2 separate regions of the Homo sapiens genome follow, and region 2 is linked to region 1. The links come from fine-mapping of genetic effects on gene expression. Tissue or cell type: cerebellar hemisphere. Region 1 holds a variant in brackets; the other region holds the start of a gene. All regions are shown on one strand. Distances are between the middles of the regions.

Region 1 (8,100 bases):
TGCGTTTGTCTCAGGGTGAGTGGAGGAATGTCTCGGCCCGTCTTTGTCCCATAGCTGTGAAGGTGAGCTGGTCATTGACGTTGTCAGCGTCAGATTCCACAGAACTCATTTGAGAGCTAGTTTAGAGGGGACATGCGGATTCTGAAAGATCTGGGGGCCCACAAGGAATTCCCTTGTGATTAATCAGTGAGGAAAGCCACCTGGGGAGACGTATGGCCTTCTATCACTGCAGCTATCTCTTCAGAGAAGAAAAGAAGGACTCAGTTTCCAAGCTTCCCTTTTCCCTTGGCATAGTGAGTCTGGGGCCCTAAGATTGGATTTTCCTTTCACATGTCTGTCCCTTGAGCCCCGCACTCATCCCCCAGCATTCTGCAAACTTCCCCAGGCCAGACCCTACGGTAAGGACTTGGACCCAAGCAGGCAGTGTAGATGGTGATCCTGGGAAACACCCACGCGGGAGGAAAGGGACAGCAGCCAGGACAGGTGTGACAATGAGCAGGCTGCTGCTGAGGGCATACTGGGGAGGTGGGCAGGGCAGGCCTTAGGCTGTCCCCCTGGGGGCAGGTGGGCTGGAGGATGCATGGACCCGCTCTGGTCCATCCTTGGCTCCTGGGGGCATGGAGTCACCAAAACTCCTGGGCTGCCCCACACAGACCAAGCCCACTCTTGTTCCAAAAGAGGCCCTTGGGAGAAAGGGCCACAGTGGGCATGGGAATGATGGGTGCCAAGCAGATGTGGGCATGGTGGGGACAGGGTCTGCAGTGTGCTGAGTGCTTGGCCGTGGGGTTACAATGAGTCACACAGTCTCTGCTCTCAAGGAGCTCCCACTGGGCACAAGGGAAAAAAGGACAGGAGACACAGCCCCTGAGAGGCTCTCACGGCCTCCCGCAGCAGCATCGGTACCCACACGGCCTGGCCTGAAAGTCCGCCCGGCCTCTGGGCATGGGAGATGGGCAGAATTCCGTGCTGCTGGCCTGGGATCCTGTCACCAGCAGGAGACAGTAACAGTAACAAAACCACACCACAAACTGAGTCCACAGGTCTGTGCCTCCCACGCACCAAACCCTGTCTCTGGGGATGACAGTGAGTAGGAGGAGAAACGTGTTTCTCACATCGGGAGACAGAAACAGGAGGCAGGGCGCTGCTCTTTCATCTCTCAGGCGATGCATGTTCATCACACACAGAGTCCGGGGGGGCAGGAGCAGCTTCAAGTCTCTCTGAGCTGGGAGCTCACCTCTCACGGGTCACCCAACCTCTCTGGGTTCCAGATTCCCCATGGGGAAGACCCAGGCACATTAAGCTTCCAGACAGCCCAGAGTGGGAGGCAGCAGAGTGGAGTGGAGGAGGTGGCGCCCAGCCCACGCTCTGCATGGTCACCAGGCTCCTGAGCCAGACATGCCCCCACCGCCCCTACCGGGCAGCGGCCTCCAGCTGCATCACCGTGTGTCCAGAACACAGAACTCACAGGGGCCTCCGGAACCTCCTGCCAGGCCTGGTGTTAACAGACTCTCCTCCCAGGACCCCCCATATCCTGCGTGACAAAATAGATGACATCAGGAATCCCAAGATGGAGTGCCTAAGGGGTGCGAGGCCAGAGTACAGGTGCCCACTGGCCGAGCGCCTGCTCCCGAGGCTGACTCAGCTCTCTGGAGCTCACTTTGCTCTAGACCAGCCAGCGTGTCCACCCTGCTCTCCTCCCACTCCTCCTGGCTGAGAGATCTCCAAAAGCCTCACCCCCACCCGCAAGCCTGGCCAGCTTCTGCAGGGTGGGGGCACAGCTGGAGCCAAATAGGAGCCAGCCCTCCTCAAATGCCCTCCTGTCCCAGCTGAGACAAAGGAGCCTCCAGGGAGCTGCCCAGACCCTGAGCGCATCTCACCTCTCCCGTTGAGGAGGACCTGGTGTAGAAAGGAGTGCTGGGTGTTGGGGGGTACACCTTGGTCATTTTGGCCTTCCTCCCACCATGACCCCTCTTGCCCTCAAAGAGTGCTGGACAGAATCTTTCTCAGAGGGCCACCCCATCGGGAAGTCCCCTACGTATCTAACCTCCATCCATCATGCTGTAAGGCAGCCTCTTTCCTCTCCTTCTGCTGTTAGTTGAGATGGGCTGGAGCCGAGCTTGTGTCCAAATGAGAGCTGCTGTGGACCCAGTCATGGCTCCGTCAGTGCCCAGCGGGAGCCTTTAGTGAGAATATCAGTGACAGGGATGGCAGTTGTTTGCTGAATGCTTCCTGTGGGCCAGGCACGGCTAAGTGAAGGATCTCACTTACCATGTGATGATCAGCCTCTCATAGGTCAGGAGGAGGCCAAGGCAGTTAAACAACTTGGCCAAGACCCAGCCATGGGTGAGCACAGAGCTGAGATGCAGAGTGGCCCCTGCCCTGTGCCTGCAGGACACCCGCCACTCCTGGGAGGCCTCAGCATTGGGTGTCAGGAGGGACCCACCGAGTCCCCCCAAGAGCCCCTCGGCTGTGCTCCCCTCCCCCTCCACTTAGGCACTGGCCCCTCCAGCAGACCCCTCAGAAGCCCAGTGACATCGAGGGAGCACTGATTTGCAATGACAGATTGAGCAGCTGGAACCCTGCCCATCCATCCTCAGAACTGCCTTGTGCTCCCAGCAACCCCACAGCCAAATCGCAGAAAAAGAGGCTGCCCTCCAGCACAGCCAGCTCTCCAGGCTTGCACCTGGACGCGTGCCCACTCTGGGCCTCAGCCCCTCTGTCTGTGATGGAGGCCAGAGGCCCCTCCCACTCATAACAGGGCTGGCAGGTAAGGGGCAACATTGCCTTCCTGTGGAGTTGCACAGTCCCCAGAAGCAGGTGGTGATTTAAACACCCTGATTCGCCTGTAATCCCAGCACTTTGGGAGGCCGAGGCGGGTGGATCATGAGGTCAGGAGATCGAGACCATCCTGGCTAACAAGGTGAAACCCCGTCTCTACTAAAAATACAAAAAATTAGCCGGGCGCGGTGGCGGGCGCCTGTAGTCCCAGCTACTCGGGAGGCTGAGGCAGGAGAATGGCGTGAACCCGGGAAGCGGAGCTTGCAGTGAGCCGAGATTGCGCCACTGCAGTCCGCAGTCCGGCCTGGGCGACAGAGCGAGACTCCGTCTCAAAAAAAAAAAAAACACCCCGATTCACAACACAGGCCCTGTGGGGCACCAGGCAGTGGCAGGCACAGGTGGCCCCTGGAAGACATGAGTGCCCTGGAGAAGGAAGGCTGGGCCTGGGGCACCCTGGGCTGCCCTCTGCCCAAGCCACAGGCCCCAGAGACTCTTCCCACCCAAGCCAGAAGTGGTGAGTCCCATCTCTGGCAAGTCTCAGCCCTGCCAAAGGCAGGGTCTCTTTCACCAGGAACTCAGCGTTCTGCATCTTCGAGTGTCTATGTAAATAAAACAAACTTCTGTCTGTCTGCCCCCCACGCCCTGCCCCATCACAAGGCAGCCAGCGGGTCTTAGATCAGGGCTGCATCTGTGGTGTTCCCACTCAAAGCAGCCTGGGCGCTCTGTGGTGCCCACACTGCCCTCCTTGAGGACTTTGAAGGCACCTCGGAGGCAGTCCTTCTCAGAGTGGCTGAAACTCAGAAAGCATCACACCATTCATTCGGAGACCCCACGCATGAAGAGAGCTAGGGTAGGTTCAGCTACAAGCCCCAGATGGAAGGGCCCAGGGGCAGGGTCGAGCTGCATGAGCCACTCCTGGGGGCAGCCCTCCCAGGTGGCAGCAGCTGAGTGCATTGTTGGTGAG[A/G]CGCATGGCTTTTCTGAGAAGCACGGGTAAGTTGGTGAGCTGTGCTGGAGGGAACGAGGCCCGCCTTCCACGTGCTCCCCTTTCAGCTGGTGGCAGGAGGCTGGGCCCCGGTGACTCCCCAGGAGTGCCTCCAGCTCTGGGCTTCTGCAGCATTTCATTCCTCCCTCATGGGGCTTGTTGGAATCTGTGTGTCCACTGAATGGGGGTCATCATTTCAACCACAGCACCCAAGCACCTCCTCAGCAGGGAGCTGTCTTTGTGCAGGATGATGCTGGATACGCTGCTCTGCACTCAGCGGGAGAGGCAGGTGCTGCTGGGCGGGTGCTGCAGGGTGGCAGGTGCCGCTGGGCAGGTGCACAGGCCCCCTCCTCAGAGCCCGGCATGCTGGCCCTGCCAGAAGGATGCCAGGAAGCAAGAAGTGGGGGCACAGAAACGTGTGGCTGTGGACAGGCAGAGAGGAGTGCGAGGGCGTTCTAGGTGAGCAAAGGCTGGAAGCAGAAATGTGCTGGTGATGAGAGGCCCATGGACATGCCGGGGAGGAGGGCTGAGTGGAAAGGGCTTGGACACCAGGCTGGGAGGTAGAGGAAGGAGAAAAAAATGGGCCTGGATTGGCCTGAAGCTAGAGAGACTGGGAGAGGCAGAGAAAAGGAAGCAGCGATAGGGGCGAAGAGTAATGGAAATGGAGGCAGAAGAGAGACTCCGAGAGGAAAGACAGGAAGGGGCAACCGAAGAACAGGCAGAGAAGAAAATGCGGGTCCAGGGCAGGGAGGGGCGAGGAGGCCACTTGCACTTCTGCTGAGGGGTGCCTACTCTCCTCCCTGGCCACACTCGCACCTCCTGGAAACCCTCTAGGTCCCAGCCATGGCTCTTGATATCCCCTGAGCCCAGGACCAAGATACTATGCTGCAGCCTTCCCTCTCTAGGGCTGCCAAGTCGACAGCCTTCTCCAGGTCCTGGATAGTGGCTGGGGGTCCCTGGGAGGCAGGTCCGGCCTGGGGAGGGGGCGGTGCCGGGAGGCTGCTGTCTGTGCCACAGAGGTCACTAAGAGGCTCCCTGCTGTGTGACAGTGGCCCCAGATCATTGGAGTACAGTGCCGCAGGCCCTCCCAGCCTGACCTTCTGGGAGACCCCAGGGCGTGCCGGAGGTCTGGATAGTCTCCCTGTCCTGGGTCCAGGGCCAGGCCCGGGACTGAGAGCTCCGCACAGTGAGGCGCGCACCACTTGAGCCCAGCAGCCTGGGGAATGGACCTCGCCTCTCCCTCGAGCGCTGGGAGGGGCGGGTAAGGCCTAACAATGTGACCATCTGCTTCACCCCTTTCCACTCTCTGGCTCCTCCTCTGTAAACGAGCTCCACAACATTCCAGACCGCACGCCAAATCGGAAAACTCTGGACTCACAACCACGGGCTTAAATGCCTAATTAAGCTCATTCTTTGAACCAAGCCATATTTGAATGCATCTGTCAGCCCTCCTCCAGCTCGCCTCGCAGCGGGGTGGGACAGCGCTAACGGGAGTGGGAGAGGCAGCGCAGCCTGGCAGACAGGCCCCTGAGCCGTCCCCAGCCTTTCCTGGTCCCCGATCTGCCCTGGTGGGGCTGTTCGAACGCTTGGTCCCTGAGGTTTTACAGTCACCAGATTCATCTGTAGCCTTTGCTCCTGGGCCTGCAGTGAACCCCTCGGCTCCCCACCTCCCTGTCCCCGTCCCTGGAAGGCTTGGCGGGCACCTGCCTCGGCTTCAGACTCCTCTGGTGCAGCACCTGCCAAGCCCAGGCCCTGCCTTGCTGGGGAAGCTCCGTGTAGCTGAGGCCTGCGTCAGTTTCCTCTATCCCGGACCAGAGATGGATGCTCCCTCCCTTCTCAGCACCCTCCATTCAAACCATTTGTGGCAGCCGCGCCACACCAGAGGGTGCAGGTCGCAGCCCAGTGCTCTGAAGAGGGGGCCACGGGGAGCCAGGAGACCACAGGCGTGGGTTCTGAGCCCACGTCCGCTGCTGCCTCCCCGGGTCCCGGCATCAATTCCCCACCCGCTCACCTCCCTGAGCCTGCAACAAGAGGATGTGGATGAACAGTGTTCCACTGTGTGTGTATATTAATACCACGTTTTATCTATCCGCTCACCTCTTCATGGTCATTCTCGGCAGCAAGGATGTTTAGAGAATGTTATGCTAAGTGAAAAAAGCCAGGAACAGAAAGACAAATAGCTCATGATCTCACTCATGTGGGAGCTGAAAAAGTCGATCGCATAGAAGTAGCGAGTTGGGTGCTGTGGCTCATACCTGTAACCGCAGCACTTTGCGAGGTCGAGGTAGGAGGTCCCTTGAGCCCAGGATTTCGAGACCAGCCTGGGCAGCATAGTGGGACCCCGTCTCTACAAAAAGTTTTGTTTTTTTTTTTAATTTGCTGGTAGTGGTGGGATGCATGCCTGTAGTCACAGCTACTGGGGAGGCCAAGGCGGGACGATCGCTGGAGCCCGGGAGTTGGAGGCTGCAATGAGCCATGATCACACCACTGCACTCCAACCTGGGTGACCAAGAAAGACCTTGTCTCTAATGAAAAAAAAAAAAGAACAGGGTAGAATAGTGATGACCAGAAGCAGGGAAGGGTGGGAGGACAGCCAGAGATGGCTTAATGGCTATAGAACTACATCTAGACAGGAGGAATAAGTTCTAGTGTTCTATAACACTGTAAGATGACTATCATTAACACAATGTATTGTATATTTTCAAATAGCTGCAAGAACGAATTTTGAATGTTCCCAACCCAAAGAAATAATAAATGTTTGAGGTGATGGATATGCTAATTACCCTGATTTGATTATTACACATTTCTACATGTATTAAAATATCACTGTACCTAATGAATGTGTAGAATTATTATGGTCAACTAAAAATAATAATAAATGCAAAAAAAAAGGATGTGAGGAATAACTCCACTCACGGCCCTCCCTGGGGTGCACCTCCTCCGTGTACCTGACCACACATCAGGGGAAGGCACAGAGCTGGGACAGAAGCCCAGAGGTGTCCTGTCACCCCCCTGCTGCAGGCTGTCAGCCCCTCCTCATCACTTGCAGGGCCCAGACAAGGCAGCCCACCCGCCACAGGTGATGGGACCCCCAGCCACCCCTCCGGCCCCCCAACCCTGTGCCCCTCTCCCCAGCACCCCTCTGGTTCTGATGCGACAAGCCTTCTACAGGACCAGTGGCCACACTGCTCCCACCCTGGCCCTCACACTCTCTGCCTTCTCTTCCAGAAATGCTTGCCCCTTCCTCCTTGTTACCTGGCTCCCCCGATCCCTTAGGCCTCCCCTAATCCTCAACTGGCACCCCCAGCCCCTGTGTGGCCCCTTCCATCCTGGCACTTGTCTCTCCTGCTGACCTGGGAGCTCCAAAGCAGCAAGGACCTCAGCTGTCTCCCTCCCTGATCCTCAGGTTCCCAGCACCCAGGGCTGGGCCAGGCTTCAGCTGAGTGCTCTGCTGTTACCTGTAGAGTGAGTGGGTGGGTGGACTTTATAACCATGGCCCACCAGCCTTGACCTTTCATACAGTTTGACAGACCTCTTGCTGCCCCAGGCAGCCCCATGGCCCTGAAGGCAAGGGTACCCCTGTAGCACATCCCAGGGACAGAGCCAGACTCTACTACCTCCACCCCCTGCAACACCATTTTCTTTCCTGCCCTTCCCTGTTGCAAGCATATTCAAATGTTTAAATTCTGTTTGGGGAACAATTAGCCTGACATATGGTCTCATCACGTTTTGTCTTCCGATGGAAAAATCCAGGGGAAACTTGGAAAATGATGACTGGCGAGGCTTTAACGTGTTTTTGCTTTTTTTGATGGTCACAAGCAAGCCACAGATGAAAAGCCTGTTACCATCTGGTCCAACCCTCTCATCTGACTCAGGGGGAAACTGAGGCCCAGTGAGAAGAAGGTACCAGCCTAAGGTCTCCCAGATGCAAAATCCAGAGCCCTTGGCACTTGCCTCTCCGCCTCAATAACCTTCAGAGAGTTGGACCTAATCTTTGCAGTGGGGTGGTGGAAAGAGGGGCTTTTAGGGCCAACATGCTCGAGTTCTGTCCTCGAGATTGTGTGGCTGGAAGGCTTCATACCCCTGGACCATAAGAGGATGGCAGAATGGGGAGGACCTGCAGTTCCCTGTCTAGACCCCTCTTTGGTATCCCCATCAGGCAATGGCTTGGCCAACCAGGCCCCCGCTTCACTGCCCAGTGACGTCCAGACCTTGTTGCCATCCACCCTGCAGCTCCTAAGGATCCAGACGGCATCTGCCAAGAAGATACAGCAAGCCTGCCTGGAATCAGAACCCACTCCTGTGACTGCCAGAAAGAGCCCACTCCCTGCATCTTGCCC
Region 2 (8,100 bases), 120 kb after region 1:
ACAGTAGCCAGGCCCTGGCAGAAGCAAGCCCCCCGGGCACAGCCAACTGGGCAGGGCAGCCAACCCATGGCCCCATCAACCACATTACAAGAGGATCTGCCTCCAGGTCTCTGTGCACAGCGACCCCACAGGCATTTTATAGCTGTGGATGGAGGGAGGGGAAAACCGTGTTAGTTCCCATTGATGATTAATCAGGACTAGAAACAAAATGATCATGAAATACTCTCAAGTCCATAGCTTCACATAACCACGATTCACTGCAAACAGGTCATCTTTGTAGGAGCCCAAGAGATACCACAGTAGGTAGACCTGAATGGCTGTGTCCGCAGAGCTTAGTGTCCCTTTGGGAGAAGTGACACGCATGCTCCTCCCCAGCCACCTTCTTTAGAGTCTCCAACTGAGAGACCACATCCCACCAGGACTTAGTGAGAAGGAAATGGCTCCCCTGCAGGGAGTGGGGAGCCAGGCTTGGCAGAGACTGGCAGGGAAGGAACCCAGTGCCCTCTGACTGGCAGGAGCTGCAGTCTGGTCTTAGCTCACTAATCCTCCAACTAGCCAAAGGGCTAAGTCGAAGAGACAAAATCCCTGCCCTGCTCACAGAAAACCCACAGCAAAAGGGAGGCAAAGTGCTCCTAGCAGGGTTCCCTGTCCGAATATTTGCTAGGCTCTAACTATGGGCAGGCCCAGCTGGGAGTTAAAGACACAGAGAAAGCCAGTGTGGTGGCTCACTCCTATAATCCCAGTGCTTTGGGAGGCAGAGGCAGGAGGACTGTTTGAGGCCAGGAGTTTGAGACCAGCCTGCACAACACAGCAAGACCCCATCTCTACAAAAAATATTAAAAATAAAACATTAGCTGGGTATGGTGGCGCATGCCTGTAGTCCTAGCTACTTAGAAGGCTGAGACAGGAAGATGGCTTGAGCCCAGGGGTTCAAGACCAACCTGGGCAACACAGCAAGACCTCACCTCTACAAAAAATTTTAAACAAAATTAGCCAGGTATAGTGGTGCATGGCTGCAGTCCTAGCTACTTGGAAGGCTGAGGCAGAAGGATCGCTTGAGCCCAGGCATTCAAGACCAGCCTGGGCAACAGCAAGACCCCATCTCTACAAAAAACATTTTAAAAATTAGCTGGGTATGGTGGCGCATGCCTGTAGTCTCAGCTACTTAGAAGGCTGAGACACGAAGATGGCTTGAGCCCAGGGGTTCAAGACCAACCTGGGCAACAGAGCAAGAACTCACCTCTACAAAAATTTTAAGCACAAAATTAGCCAAGTGTGATGGTGCATGCCTGTAGTCCTAGCTACTTGGAAGGCTGAGGCAGAAGGATCGCTTGAGCCCAGGGGTTCAAGACCAGCCTAGGCAACATAGCAACACCCCATCTCTACAAAAAAAATATATATATATTAGCAAGGCATGGTGGGCTAATCCTCCTGGTGTCAGCATGATAACTCTGGAGGCTGAGGTGCTTGAGCTCAGGACGTTGAGGTGCAGTGAGCTAAGATCGTGCCACTGCACTCCAGCCTGGACAACAGAAAAAGACCGTGTCAAAAAAAAAAAAAAAAAAAACCATAGTGAAGGTGGGTCAGCTGCTCTCATCACAGTCTACAAGGCAGGGCAGAAAACAGATAGACCAAGCTGAACAGACAGGAAAGAGACTACAAGTCTAGCTCAGGCTGCTCCTTGCTCCCATCAGTCAAGGGTAGGGCCTTGCTCTCCACACCAACTCGAGGCATCAGGACCAGGGGCTCACCTGGAGGAGGGAAGAGCTTAGTGTTTTGGTTAAGATCCAGGACCCCAGAGTAAGACAGGCTTTGGGTTGATGCGTCACTCAGCCACTTACTAACTATGTGACCTTGGGCAAGTTCCGTAAGCTTCTGAGCTTCAACCATAAAATGGAGTGAAATCACCATGTCTACCCCTGGAGTTGTGATTGAGGTAAAATGAGCTCATTCATTCATTCCACAAGTATTTACTGAGCTCCTACTCTGTGCCCGACCCTGTTGTAGGCGCTAGAGATACATCAGTGAACAAGGCAGGCACAGTCTTAGAGACCTGCAACAAGACACTCAATAAATAAGGATGTGGTCCCATGTGTTGGAAGATGGCTGGCGAAATGGAAAAAATAAAGGAAGCAGAGTGAGGGCCTGGGAGTGCTGGGTGGTGGGAGGAGAGGCAGTGTAGACTGCAGTGTTAAATATGGTGGCCCAGGTGGGCCTCATGGAGAAGGTGACTGCTTGACAAAAACCAGAGCACAACGGAGTTAGCCAAGCAAGTATCTGTGGGAGAAGCATGTCAACCAGATGGTGCGGCTGGTGCAAGGGCCCTGGGGTAGAAGCATGCCCAGTGTGCTGCATTGTAGGAAGGAGAACAGTGTGGCTAGGGGAGTGTGAGCTATGGAGAAGACAGAAAAGATGAGAAGATGAAGGAAAAGGGTGAGCAGGAAGCAGAAAGGCAGATGGTTTGACCTTGGCAGCCACTGCAAGGCCACTGGTGTTTATGCCAAGTGAAATGGGAGCCACTGTGGGGTTTTTCAGCAGTGGAAGAGGGATCTGATTTCCCTGAGAAGGATCTCTTTGTCATGTTGAGAACTGATGCCTAGAAAGTGTCTAGTACATGGAAAGCATGTGAAAACATGTATCTGTCGCTCTTAGAGTAATACCAACTCATGCAGTGGGCAAGAAACACCCAACCCCACAAGGCGGTACAGGGATAAATTACTTCCAGATAATTCCCTCTAGCTACAGGGATTCTCCCACGGGCATCGCTGGTCTCCAGCATTAGCCTCTGCTTGGATCTGGCATCAGGAAAGGAGACTGCTACCTCTCCAGGTGGGCCACTGCGCAGTGGGCTAGCTCTTTCTTCAGAACCCTGCTTGGAATCAGTCCCCAAATGAGCCTGCTTTCCTGGAACCCCGCTGTGGTCCTGAATCTGCATAGAGCGGTGCAAGTCTGCCCTCTCCCTTCAGAAGCTGAGGACAGCAATGGGGCCTGGCAGGGTCTTACATTCGGGGGTCCAAAGTGGTTTCTAAGGGCACATGGGATTTCCTAGGAAAAGCTCCTGCCATGACAGAAGGAGCTGGCAACTGCCTCTGTGGAGCCCCTAGAGAGGAACTTGAGGGAAAGGAGGAAAGTCCTATAGGACCCCCTTCTTCCCTTTGCCCCCAGCAGGAGACCTTAGAAAACAAGGGCTTGATAGATGAGCCACAGTGAGCCAGGGGGTGGGAGTGACTCCTGGGCCATAGACGAGGAAACTGAAAGGCAGGCACTGGAGGCAAGAAGGGCTGGCCCCGGGCACCCGCTGGCGAGGACAGCCTTGGAGAGGGCCTGCAGCTCCTCCCCTCTGAGCTGTGCTGCGCTGGCCGCCTGGACCAGGGTGGCTGCTGGAGAGTGTTTTCCCTCTGGGTTTCCTTCTCCTTGGCTCCCAGGGAATCCTCTGGCGGTGCCTCCGGGAGGCTGGTAGCCGGGGAAGCAGGCACGTGAATCCACCGGGCTGCCCCACCCCAACCTGAGGTCAGAGCTGAGGCGTAGGGGCCGGGGTAGGGGCAGAGGTGCCGAAACGCACTAGCTGGGGACTCCCGGGGGAAGGAGATAGGAGAGACCCAAGGCGAGCCTTAGGACTCGCCCCTATGACTATGACTACGCGCTGCGTCCGAACCACATGTCCACCCCGCATTTGCCTTCGGGGACCAGACCGCGCTCCCTCAGATGGCTGGGGAGGGAGCAGACTCCGGGTGAAGGCTGGGGGAGGTACCGGGATGCCGAGTACGCCAGAGCAGGCGGGGGATGGGTTCCGGCTTCCTGCCGCCTCGGCATCTCGCTTTGCACCGGGCAAAGAAGGGGCCACGACCGGCGAAGAGCGCGTGGAGACACAGGGACCCGCGATCCAGGGGCAGGAACCCCGCCCCCTCCCGGAAACCTCCCGGGCCCTGAGTCGTGCCCGGCGCTCCCCACCCCACCCCACCCCCGCCGCCCCTGCCGTCACTCACGGCCGCTGCGGGCTGGCTAGCGTGTGCGCTCTCCGCGCCGCAGGCACCTGCTCGCTGGGCGCTGTGCGCTCACTTCTCCCTCGCGCACTGCAGACTCCCGGCGCTGCCGCCGCCACCCAGCGTAGTCTCCGGCTGGGCACAGCGTTCCGCCCTTCTCGCGGCCCCGGGCGCCCACCCATCCGTCATGGCCCAGGCCTGGGCCAAACAGCGGGGCAGCTGGTTGCCCAAACTGGGGTAAGGAGTTGAGGGCTGGGAGCTGCAGAGAGGACCGAGGGACACACGGGGAGCAGGGATGAGCGGCCGTCTCGAGCCGTGCAGACTGGGAAGAAGCCAGGGAGAGTTTGGGTGGGAGGACTCCCAACCCAAGCGGGTGCGGGGCGGGGCTGTACTCCAACCAGAAAGACGGTGGTCCCTCCGAGCGACCCCCGAGGAGAGAGGGGGAGCGCTCTGGGGCGGGGGCGGGGCGGGCTGTGGCAGGAGAGGGGAGGGCGGGGGCGATGCAGCGGTGGAGGCGGCTTGGCGCCCAGCCACTGACCGCCCCCTCCCTTCCCCTCCCCTCCCCCTCTCCCCGCCTCTCTCCGGCTCCGGGTCCGCCACGCCGGACCCGCTCTCCCCGCGCTGCGCTGGGTCGGACGCCAGGTCTGCGCGCCGCGGCTGAGCGCCCACTCGCCCTGCGGAAAGAGCCGCGGAGGAACCGGCGGGGGCGGCTGCGGGAGCCGAAGGAGGTGGCAATCGGGAGCAGAACCAGAAGGAGACAGGGAGGCAGAAGCTCGCGGCTCCGTGGCACGCACTCCCTCGGCCAGGGATGGGTCCCGGCGCGGCCCAGCCCCTGCCCGGCCCGCCGGGCAGAGACTGAACCGCGGATCCCCACCGTCCTGTGGACGACCGGACAGAGAGAGGCACTGACCGATCGCCAGCAGCCTCCCGGTGGGACCGCGTCTCCTGCACACCCCGCGCAGCGCCCCCCGCCGGAGCCGCACCGGGCAAGCCGGCGAGGGAGCGGGGCTGATTGGCGGCCGCCGGCGGCCAGGGGAGGGGGCGCCGCGCGGGGCCATGGCAGGCTCGGAGGCGTCCTAGCCCGAGCCGGAGCCGATCCGAGCCCACGCGGCCGCCGCCTCTCCGCTCCCGGGCCCCCGCCGCCACCGCGCCCCCCGCGGGAGATGGAACAGCGGAACCGGCTCGGTGCCCTCGGATACCTGCCGCCTCTGCTGCTGCATGCCCTGCTGCTCTTCGTGGCCGACGGTGAGCGCGGGAACTTTGCTGCCGCTGTGGACTCGGGGGGGTCTTTGCTGGGGCCGCCACCGAGAAGAAGAAGAAAGAGAACGAACCGGGAAGCTTCGCGGTCTCCAGCAATCCCGCTGTGCAGCCTGGGCCCGGAGGGGTAGGGAGAGGCGAGCGGCGAAGGGTCGCCGCAGCAGCAGCGCCGCGCCCGAGTCGTTCCCAGTCCCGCCGGGGCCCCGGCTGCGGAAAGGATGCCTGCGGGGAGCGGGAGTAGGCGCGCCCCAGCCAGGCTCTGGCGGTGCGGCCAGGGGCGGGGGAGAAGCACGAGTCGCCCCTGCCGCCCCGCCCCATCCGGAGGGAAGCAGTAGGCAGCCGATGGCCGGTCCCTGCCTCGGCCCTGCAGCCGCTTCCCCGAACTTTGCTAGCCCCTCCGGCCGTGCGCCAGGGAGCAGCTGCGGGGTGGGGGGCACAAGGCCAGCCAGCCAGAGACCGACTGCCTCGCTTTAGGTTGCCCCAGGCCCCCGACCTACAGCTGGTCACGCCTCTCTCTCTCTCCCCACCCCCAGCTGCATTCACAGAAGTCCCCAAAGATGTGACAGTACGGGAGGGAGACGACATCGAAATGCCCTGCGCGTTCCGGGCCAGCGGAGCCACCTCGTATTCGCTGGAGATTCAGTGGTGGTACCTCAAGGAGCCACCCCGGGAGCTGCTGCACGAGCTGGCGCTCAGCGTGCCGGGCGCCCGGAGCAAGGTAACCCGCCGCCCACGCGGTACCGGCGCGCGCCCGGCTCGCGCCCGGGGCGGCGAAGGCTAACCCAGGGAGGGAAGCAGCGGGCTTCACTCGCGCAGGGCGCCGCCCTGTGGCGCAGCCCATCTTCCACCTTCGCATCCCAAAGCATCTTCAAAGTCAGCAGTGGTTACCCCCAAACCTGTCAATTATTTTGACAGCATCGCTGTTCCCACCACCTCCCAGAACTCCATTCACGCCCAGCCCCTAAAGAGCCACACCTCAGCCTGGTCGCTTGCTCGTGCTCGCTGGCTGCGGCCCTCTGATGGGTGCTGGGTAGTGAAGGAAGCCCCCTTGGTCCCATCAGGCTCTCCCCGCCCTCTGCCACTTTGAGGACCCCAGGGCTCCCACGGCTGCGTTCCAGAGGCCACCAGAAAACCGAGTACCGGAAAGCCGGCAGGACCTCCAGCCCTCAGGGGCACAGAGGGGCCACTTCTCTGTGGCCGAAAACAGGCCCACGCTGCCTGTCTGCCTCAAAACCCACACTCTCTTACACACTCTAGTGTGCTCGCGTGCACACACACCTACACACACACCTACACCTACACACACCTACATTCTCCCAGGGTCCCACCCAGAGTTACTCCCACTGAGCCTCCCGCTGGGTGCTGTCCAGACACAGCGGCCCTCCCTCCAGTTCTTCACGGCTCCCAGTGAGCTGGGGGAGGATTTTGAGCCACGCGGCAGGGCCTAAGGATGCCCAGAGGGAAGGAGAGGGGCTTTCCTTCCCACCCTGGTGTCCATCCAGTCTCCCCAGTTCAGCCGGCAGGTGTGCACCAGGGCAGCCACCCGTTGGTCAGGCACCATGCTAGCTCCAAAGCCCGCTTCCTCCTGGGAAACTCTTGGAAAGCCGGACGTCCTTTGTGCCCTCAACCCCCATCCCCCGGGCGGTTTCGGTCCTAGCCTGCCGGAGGAGGGTGCCCTTGCCTAAAGGCGGATCCGAGTTCCCCTAGCCAGAAGGCCGCGAGCCTCACGTCTCTCTCTCCCTCTTTGCATTTTAGGTAACAAATAAGGATGCAACTAAAATCAGCGTAAGTGTGGAGCCCAGCGCGGGCCGCGGGAGACCCCTTCTGGCCGCCTCGGGTCCCGCAGCTCCCTCCCTTAGCAAGCCGCGGCGGCCGCGCATGTGGGGCCGCGCAAGTAGGGCAGCGATCGCAGCCTTGCATCGGTGGCTGCTCGGCGTGTCCGGGCGCCATCTGTCGCCGGTTGCAGGGTCGGGTTCTCTTTTGTGTAAATCAAGGGTCCAAGGCTTGAGTCCCCTAATTCGGCTCGGCGCTGACCTGTAAAACTCCCCTTGGTCGGACTGCGCGCTTAGGGCCTCTCGCGCCTGCCAGCCTCCGCTCTGCGGGCATTCCTCCTAGCACCGGGAGCGCGCGGCTGCTCGCCCTCGCCGCGACCGTGGCGCCAGCTTCCCGCCCCCTCTGCCCCGCCCTGAGCATCTGCTCTGCGCCCTCCGCTGCAACCCTTTATCCTCCGCCTGGATTGCGGGTCTGGGTGCGGGGTGTTGCAGGCTTGCAGGGGACGGGGTAGGGGGTGGTTGTGCCAGGCTGCGAGGGGCCCGGGTCATGGGGTTGCTAACTCTGGGAGGAGATGCGCCCAAGCTTCCCACCTGGAGCGTAGAAAGGCCTGGAGATGACGAAGCCTCCTCGTGGGCTCGGTTCAGAGGTGAGGGCTCCCTGGGTGTTTGTTGAGAGCCGTAGAGCAGTACTTCCCGAAGTCCCCACCGGGGCGCAGGGGAGGAGCACTTCGCTGGGGGGCTTCTGGAGATCCCGCGGAAAGGCGGGTTGGTAGCAGGTGGCCAGGGAGCCAGGCAGCAGCCTCAGCGTTGCTTGCCTTCTTAAGAAAGCACAGTGTTAGCTGTAAAGGGCGGGGTCCGGTGACAGGGTGGCTTTCCTTAGGAAGCGATTCGGGCAGGCCCTCCGTGCTCCGGGAGGTGAGGAGGGCCGGCTGGGGCGGGACTGTCGGTTGGAGCGCGTCGGGGCGGGAAAGACGTGGGGAAGTTAAGGAACAAGGAATCCAGCCTGGGGTTTCCTGAAGGTGCAGGAGGGAGGAAGGAGAGGTGGACTCTGCCCTTCTGAAGCGCCAGCTACGGGAAGACAAGCAGTG

What was found. PIP is the estimated chance that this variant, and not a neighbour inherited with it, causes the effect.
Region 2: VSTM2B-DT starts here. The variant in region 1 is fine-mapped to the expression of VSTM2B-DT in cerebellar hemisphere (GTEx, PIP 0.98).

What each region holds. Positions count from the first base shown.
Region 1 is chr19:29,400,156-29,408,255 of GRCh38, forward strand. The region is part of intron 3 of VSTM2B-DT (VSTM2B divergent transcript); the gene reads right to left. Among named protein-coding and RNA genes, the nearest start is that of VSTM2B-DT, 120 kb to the right of the region's middle. RefSeq lists enhancers at 4,640-4,809, 4,693-5,319, 4,876-5,045. The variant A/G (reference allele first, on the strand shown) is at 3,743.
Region 2 is chr19:29,521,438-29,529,537 of GRCh38, forward strand. It overlaps VSTM2B-DT (VSTM2B divergent transcript), which reads right to left and starts at 4,313. Exons shown (of 10, transcript NR_040029.2): 1 at 3,987-4,313. VSTM2B (V-set and transmembrane domain containing 2B) reads left to right here and starts at 4,557. Exons shown (of 5, transcript NM_001146339.2): 1 at 4,557-5,228; 2 at 5,774-5,958; 3 at 6,996-7,025. The coding sequence starts at 5,147. It overlaps LOC124904683 (a long non-coding RNA gene), which reads right to left and starts at 7,843. Exons shown (of 2, transcript XR_007067215.1): 1 at 7,604-7,843.